Regions from separate parts of the Homo sapiens genome. Here all the other regions are linked to region 3. The links come from fine-mapping of genetic effects on gene expression. A gene starts in region 3. Each other region holds a variant in brackets. All regions are shown on one strand. Distances are from middle to middle. Region 1 has its middle 33 kb from the start of FBN2. Region 2 overlaps LOC105379167 (a long non-coding RNA gene). Region 3 holds the start of FBN2 (fibrillin 2).

The links.
Region 1: its variant is fine-mapped to the expression of FBN2 in whole blood (TOPMed, PIP above 0.99).
Region 2: its variant is fine-mapped to the expression of FBN2 in whole blood (INTERVAL, PIP above 0.99).

What each region holds. Positions count from the first base shown.
Region 1 is chr5:128,569,893-128,572,650 of GRCh38, forward strand. No RefSeq gene overlaps it. Among named protein-coding and RNA genes, the nearest start is that of FBN2, 33 kb to the left of the region's middle. The variant A/C (reference allele first, on the strand shown) is at 1,528.
Region 2 is chr5:128,654,316-128,657,073 of GRCh38, forward strand. All of the region lies in intron 1 of LOC105379167 (a long non-coding RNA gene), which reads right to left. Among named protein-coding and RNA genes, the nearest start is that of FBN2, 120 kb to the left of the region's middle. The variant A/G (reference allele first, on the strand shown) is at 1,523.
Region 3 is chr5:128,536,704-128,539,461 of GRCh38, forward strand. FBN2 (fibrillin 2) reads right to left here and starts at 1,542. Exons shown (of 65, transcript NM_001999.4): 1 at 647-1,542. The coding sequence starts at 900. RefSeq lists enhancers at 1-142, 1,868-2,368.

The sequences.
Region 1 (2,758 bases), 33 kb after region 3:
AACCAGTTTTTGGTTATTAAACTAGGACAATATGCAGGAAATCAATTTAATTTTTTCTGAACCATGTAAATATAATAAAACCCTCATTATATATTGAAAAAGAACAAATAAATAATAAGCAACTTTTGCTTTTTTTCCCCATCTACCAAAGGAATTTCTCAGTTGATTCAATAAATTGTATTTCCTTAGGAAAAACTAAAATACATGTGAGTGGTAAAGAGACTTATATCTTTAATTTTTCCTCAAATTTTTTTATTATGGATTTGTTTGAATTTCTTTTTCACAGCTCTCCTTTTCTTTTTATTTCTGTCTCCCTTTCCTTCATCCCTCTGAAATAGTGAAAATCTCAGGAAAGTAAAGTCATATGGTTTCAAATTTCCCATCTTTAAACTATATTAAGCAATTTATGGGGTAGATATTTTGAAGCCAATTGCCATAGTACATTTAAGATTCTTGGATGAAGACGCCTTTTATAAATAAGAAGATTTTCCCTTTCAAATGTAGAATGGCTCCTTTTTCACTATGAAGAGAAATGTAAGCAATTCTTTTAAAGGACGTTCATTATAAAGGAACTTGTTTCTTGAATGTCTGTCCTTCCCGAATATATAAAGCAGGTAAAATTCTTTTCTGTAAATTTTTGTTATACTTGCACCTATACCTTTTTAGTGATTTTTTTATGGTTAAGTTGATATCTTTTAAGTTTTATTGAATAATTTTAAAAATTTAATTCTTTTAGTGTTTCAAAAGAACAACATAGAGGTGGCTGCAACCTTTAGTGTTCACTAGATTTGTTTATTTTTTTCATTGAAAAAATGATCTTGAAACATTGCGACCTTCTTTCATGCAATGATTTTTTATGATGACATTAGAACTGATACAAAAACAGATCACCATTGATTTCCCTAGAGTGATAACCATAGTGCTTCTCTACTTTTTCTCTCTCCTGCCTAAACATTGCTTTACAGAATTTTCAGTATCTTAACTCTCCATTTTTTTAGCCTTATTTCAAATTCACTTTTCTCCAAACTGGATACTCTACCTAGCCTCCTCAGCAACCCTCATTTCATAGTAAGTCCCATGTTTATATAGATACATTTTTATAGAGAACCAGATTAAAGAAGTTATATTCCTCACTCTCAGCTCAGAGATGAGCTTTATAGCTTCTAAAATAAAACCCTAACTTTTTTGGATTGCATTAAAAGACTACCATACGTCATATTTGGGAATTCCTTTGTCTTAGATATTCTGCTCTGTCAAACGAATCAGATTTTTCTGTAGTCCTGAATATTACTGTTCAATTATAGCCATTATCATCATCATTAATCACTAACGTGAATCTCTGCAGTCACGCTATTACTGTCCCATCTCCAAACTTCTGTATGTGTTGCATTACCTAGAGTATAACTTTTCTTCTTTCTCTAGAAAAATGCATCTAAAAATATATATACTCTATATTATCTATGTCGGCTAATTTCTTTACTATTTTCTCACTAGCATAAACACTTAGACAAAAAACCAAAACCAAAA[A/C]CAAAAACAAAACCCTTTCCACCAACCTCTGCCCACCATGGGTTGGAACTGGAACTAAATTGTTATGTTCCCCTCACTCCACAGAAGAAGACCGCTAGCTACAGGGGTCCCTGTGCTGGCCAAGCTAGTGAGCCTGTTGGGAGGCTGGTCCGAGGAGAAAGTGGGCCAGCTCCCATGACCTCGCCTCACTCCCTCAACATGGGACACTTTGTATAGATGTGTAATGTATATGTATTTCTTTTTAAGTGACCTCCTCTCCTTCTGCAGACCCCACATGACCATAAGCCTCAGGACTTTCCACCACCTTGCTCCACAGATCCTGCTAGGCCCAACCTGGGCCTCATCCCATGCTGCTTGGTCTCTGGCTGATCCTGGGGCTTTGTCTTCCTCTCGTCAGTTCTTTTGGTTGTGTTTTTTGTTGTTTTTTTTAAAAAGCTCAAAAAATAAATAAAAGACTTGGAGGAAGGGTAAAAAAACAAAAATCCCTTTCCTAAGACCGTAATTAGTTTGCACTTGCTTATAGATTACTTCTTATATGTGTATTTATATAATCGTGTTTTTTAATGATGGAAGCGAGATCATCTGTTACTTTGGATGAAAATTAAAAAACAATCCAGTACTCCCTTTCTCATGAATTCTGATACCATGCACTATCTTCTGTGCCTCTTTCCTAAATTATGTTAGTCTTTTCTGTGGCTTATCTAGACAAATGTAAAACTGCTGTAATACATTGGAACTTTAATTTGTTAAAAAGTGAGAAAATGGAGTAAACAAGCGCTTGAGTGTAAAAAAATGTTAACACTATGAGGGATTTCCCAGTGGAGTCACACAAGGACTTATGGTTCAAGGTTTAAAATCTAATAGCATGAGTAATGAAGCAAAAGTGATCTATGTTAAACATATTTACACTTTTATGAAATGTAAGCTTGGATAACGTAGAGTTCATAAACTAAATAGCAAAAGATAATTCCAAGATGAAATCATTTTATTACATAGGAACGCTTAATTTGTCAACTTTGAAATCCCAGAATGCTGTCTTTTTATTTTTCAGAATCTGTTTGCTTGTTTTGGTGTTTAGCCCAATGAAAGATATCTCAGGAGATCGTATTTTATAAGTGAATGCAAACATATGAAGCAACTTGATGGTTTGGAGTTTATATTTAAACAAATTTGTGTTATCCTGGTTTAATTATGTTACCCATAATGTAGACAAGTCTTATTTTTATTAAAG
Region 2 (2,758 bases), 120 kb after region 3:
TAGGTTTTCTGCAGAGAGATCCACTGTTAGTCTGATGGGCTTCCCTTTGTGGGTAATGACCTTTATCTCTGGCTGCCCTTAACATTTTTTTCTGGTATTTCAACTTTGGTGAATCTGATGATTATGTGTCTTTGGATTGCTCTTCTCGAGCAGTATCTTTGTGGTGTTCTCTGTATTTCCTGAATTTGAATGTTGGCTTGTCTTGCTAGGTTGGGGAAGTTCTCCTGGATAATATCCTGAAGAATGTTTTCCAACTTGCTTCCATTCTCCCCATCAGTTTCAGGTACACCAATCAAAAATAGGTTTGGTCTTTTCACATAGTTCCATATTTCTTGGAGGCTTTGTTCATTCCTTTTCATTCTTTCTTCTCTAATCGTGTCTTCATGTTTTATTTCATTAAGTTGATCTTCAATTTCTGATATCCTTTCTTCTGCTTGATCGATTCAGCTATTGATACTTGCGTGTGCTTCATGAAGTTCTCATGCTATGTTTTTCAGCTCCATTGGGGCATTTATGTTCTTCTCCATACTGGATATTCTAGTTAGAAATTCCTCTAATATTTTTTCAAGGTTCTTAGCTTCCTTGCATTGTTTTAGAACATGCTCCTTTAGCTGAGAGCTGTTCATTATTACCCACCTTCTGAAGCCTGCTTCTGTCAATTCATCAAACTCATTCTCCATCCAGTTTTGTTCCCTTGCTGGGGAGGAGCTGTGATCCTTTGGAGGATCACAGAACCTTTCTGGTTTTTGGGATTTTCAGTCTTTTTGCATTGGTTTTTCCTTATCTTTGTGGATTTATCTACCTTTGGTCTTTGATGTTGGTGACCTTCAGATGTGGTTTATGTGTGGATGTCCTTTTTACTGATGTTGATGTGATTCCTTTCTGTTTGTTAGTTTTCCTTCTAACAGGCCCCTCTGCTTCAGGTCTGCTGGAGTTTGCTGGAGGTCCACTCCAGGTCCTGTTTGCCTGGATATCACCAGCAGAGGCTGCAGAACAGCAAATATTGCTGCCTGTTCCTTCCTCTGGAAGCTTTGTCCCAGAGGGGCACCCACCAGTTGCCAGCCAGAGCTCTCCTGTATGAGGTGTCTGTTGACCCCTGCTGGGAGGTATCTCCCAGTCAGGAGGCACAGCGGTCAGGGACCCACTTGAGGAGGCAGTCTGTCCCTTAGCAGAGCTTGAGCATTGTGCTGGGAGATCCACTGCTTTCTTTAGAGCCAGCAGGCAGGAACATTTCAGTCTACTGAAGCTGTGCTCACAGCCACCCCTTCCCCTATATGCTCTGTCCCAGGGAGACGGGAGTTTTATCGGTAAGCGGTTGGCTGGGGCTGCTGCCTTTCTTTGAGAGATGCCCTGCCCAGAGAGGAGGAATCTAGAGAGGCAGTCTGGCTAGAGCGGCTTTGCCAAGCTGCAGTGGGCTCTGCCCAGTTAGAACTTCCCAGCGGCTTTGTTTACACTGTAAGGGGGAAACAGCCTACTCAAGCCTCAGTAATAGTGGACACCCCTCCCCCTACCAAGCTTGAGC[A/G]TCCCAGGTCAACATCGGACTGCTGTGCTGGCAGTGAAAATTTCAAGCCAGTCGATCTTAGCTTGAAGGGCTCCATGGGGGTAGGATCTGCTGAGCTAGACCACTTGGTTCCCTGGCTTCAGCCCCCTTTCCAGGGGAGTGAATGGTTCTGTCTCACTGGTGTTCTGGGCACCACTGGGGTATGAAAAAAAAACTCCTGCAGCTAGCTCGGTGTCTGCCCAAATGGTCATCCAGTTTTGTGCTGAAACCCAGGGCTCTGGTGGTGTACTCACCCGAAGGAATTTCCTGGTGTGTGGGTTGCCAAGACTGTAAGAAAAGCATAGCATCTGGGCCAGAATGCACTGTTCATCAAGGCACAGTCCTTCATGGCTTCTCTTGGTTAGGGGAGGGAGTTCCCCAACCCCTTGCACTTCCTGGATGAGGTGACGCCCCATCCTGCTTCTGCTCCCCCTCTGTGGGCTGCACCCATTGTCTAACCAGTCCCAATGAGATGAGCAGGGTACCTCAGTTGGAAATGCAGAAATCACCTGCCTTCTGCATTGATCTTGCTAGGAGCTGCAGACTGGAGCTGTTCCTATTCGGCCATCTTGCCCAGGAATCGAGACTGGGTAATTTCTAAAGAAAAGAGGTTGAATTGGCTCACTGCTCAGCAGGCCACAGAGAAAACATGACTGGGGAGGCCTCAGGAAACTTTCAATCATGGTGGAAGGGAAAGCAGTCACATCTTACATGGCTGGAGCAGGAGGAAGAGCAAGGGGGGAGGTGCTCCACACTTTTAAATAGCCAGATCTCATGAGAACTCTGTATCAGAAGAACAGCAAGGGGGAAATCCACCTCCACAATCCAATCCCCTCCCACCAGACCCCTCTCCAACATTGGGGATTACAATTCAACATGAGATTTGGGCAGGCACACAAAACCAAACAATATCCATGCTCTTATTAAATTCCCTTTTCACTTGTTTCTGTAGCACTACTCTTCCATGGTACTTCTTCAAGTTTGTCCTTGGCTCCATCTTAATTTCTGGAATGGGCTCCTATACTTTGGCCTGCTCCTTAAACATTGGTGTTCCCTAGAGTTCTGTGGTTAATCTTTGTCTTTTTCTCATTCTATATCCCCCTATCCTATCCTCACATATCATTCTAAACCTTGGTTTCAACTACCACCTTAATCACAAAAAATTTTTTATAAAGAGGATCATTTCATAATAATAAAGAGGTAAATTCATCAAGCGAA
Region 3 (2,758 bases):
TGTCGTCCCTTGCCTGCCTTTTTAAAGGGCGAAAAGAGGCATGGAAACATATAATTTGCTACTATTCTAGCTTCCAGATGCAGAGAACAAAGGGACCATTCCGTTCCAAAGAATCCTTGCCCTCCTTCCCAAATCCATTCCTCCTTGGTCAACTGTTACTTTGGCCCCGACGTGTCAAGGAAAGCGCGTCGCAAGGTGGAGCGCTCGGGTTGACGATGAGAAGGTGAGCTGTGAACCCTGCACACGTCCTCAAACAAAAGGCTCACGAGCGGCGGCCCCGACGTGGGGAGCAAGCAGGCTTCTCTGGCCCCTGCAGCAGGCGGACCCAGGCCCGCCTGCCGCCGGACATTCAGAACCTGTTCCCGCAGCGCGAGCTCTGCACACGCTCTGCGATCGGCACCCCTGGACCCCCTAACCACCCGCCGCCCAACCCCCGGAGAGAGGGCTTTCCGCCCGCTGAGCTGCGGGGTTGGGAAGGAAAAGGGGGACGCGCTCCTGGGGGTCTTTGGATATTCTGGCAAAGGGGGCTGCAGCTCTAGGCTCCAGCTAAAGGGTCTGGGACGGAGTGGGCCAGAAAGCCGCCAAACTGAGGATTCCCCCCTCCCCCAAGCCGGAGCCCTAGGTGCGGAGCCGCTTGCCCACTTACCCTCGGAGCACGTCCTGCTGTCCTCGCCGGCGGACGCGGCTGGCCACTGCGGCACCCTCCTCGCGATACTCGGGCGCTAGAAACCCGCCTTCAGAGCCTGCTGTAGCGGACCGAACCTGTTGCGGCGGCGGCTGGGGCCGGGGCGGCTTGGGCGGAGGAGGCTGAGGCTGGCCGGCCGTGCCCTGCGCCCAGAGCACCACACAGCCCAGCCACAGGAAGTAGAGCTGGAGACACAGCCTCCGTCTTCTCCCCATCGCCGGCGCCGAAAGCGCGCGGCCGTAGACCCGCGGAGAGGGAGTGATCAAAGACAAAATCTGCGCGCCTCAGAAAAGAGTCAGGGTCTAATAAGCCCTTCGTCGGCTCCGGGGACTCCCTCGGGCTCGGGCTCCCTGCTCTAGCTGGAGACCTCGACAGAGCGCCGGCCCCCTGACTGCCCGCGAAGCGAGACGCGGGGCGCCGGGTCTAGCGCAGTGAGCGGCGAGGCGCGGCGGAGGTGCAGCCGGCAGCCCCGAGCGGTACACGTTGCATAACCGGCCTAAAGCCCCGAGCGACTCCAGGACCGTCAGCGGGCGGGGGAGGAAATTACAAAAGCCCTGGCGTAAAATTTCAAAAAATGTGAACCTCAAAAGAAAAAAGGGCCTGCACGCAGAGCTCGGCGGATTCCCGTGCGCTCCGAAGACGGATATTGGAAAGCTGCAAAAGTCACCAGAAAGAAACAGGCAAGCAAACAAAAGTCGCCCCCAGAAGAAGAGGAGGGTTCCCTCCGGGCTCGCTCGGAGTCCCACAGGGCAACGAAGCGCGGGTAGCGGCTGCGGAGCCGGGCGGAGGTGCGCGGGGCCGGGGCGTGCGGCCAGCAAGAGAGAGGGCGGGAGGCTGGGCGCTGGAGAAGATGCGGCGGTGGAGGGCGCGGCGCGGGGGTTTTAGAGGCCCGGCGGGGCGCGGGGCGGGCCGGCGGGCGGCGGCTGTCAGTGGGGGCGCGGCCGTCCACACGTGGGGCTCAACCCGGACTGAGAGGCCGGCGCAGAGTGGGCGGGGACAGAGTAAGGGAGAGATCGGGACTGAGGAACGAGGGGAACCAGGGTTGGGTGAGGGGAAGAGGAAGGAAGGGGGGGAGGGCGAAGGGAGGGAAGAGGACGGAGATTGGGGAGAAGGGGGGCGAACCCGAGAGGAAGGCCGGGCTGGAAGAGGGACTTGGAAAGAGGGATTGGCGAGCCCGGGTGCGAGAGGAAATGAGCGGGGGATGGGGGCGAAGTTAGGGCAAAGAGAGAAGTGGGAAAGGAGAGGGAGGGCCAAGGTCCGGGCGCCGAGAGGAGGGGCCCGGGGGGCCGGCTGGAGGGGGCGAGGCGCTAGGCGGCTTTGCTTCCCGTCCCCGTCAATTGGCCGCTAGCTCTGTTTTGACTGCCTGTACAAAGCGAGTAGACGGCGGGGGATGGGGCGATTAGGGACCGGATTTGGGAAAGGAGGCAGCAGCCCCTTCCCCTCCCCCTCCGTCCTCGCCCGGCCGCGGACCAGGGACTAGGGTGCCTAAGCGCGCCAGGCTTGGCCGGACCCGCAGCTGAACTGACCCGCAGCTGAACTTCCCCGCCGGACAGAGGCCGCAAGGTTGAGGATGAGAACGGGTCTTTCTGTAGGGTCCCGGCCCCTGACCTGGGATGGGGGGATTCGCAGTCAGCCAGGAATAGAGGCTCACGGGGCTGTTGGTTGCAGCCTCAATCCAAGAAGGAGGAGACCTCCCCTTTGCCCTCCTACCCCCACCGCCCCACCGGGAGCGGCGTCAGTCTGCGGGACCAAATTAGGGGCTGGGAGTTTCCAGATTGAAATGCGCCCTCCACCACCAAGAGGGAGCTCACGCGGCCGCGGGGGGCCGAGGCAGCCAGCCGGCGCCGCGGTCCTGGGGAGTCCGTGCAGGGGTGTGCTCTGGTGTGAAACCTGGCAGGACTCTGCCTGGGCTTGCATGCAGGGAGGGGTTAGAGACTCTGAAATGTACTAGCGGGCAGGGTGGTGACAAGGCGGGTAAATGAGGCTCGGGGCATGCCCTTGCTTCCTGGCTTGGACCCCTTCTGATTGATTAAATCCTAGCAATTGGTGCAACCCTCTGTACCTCTTAGAGTG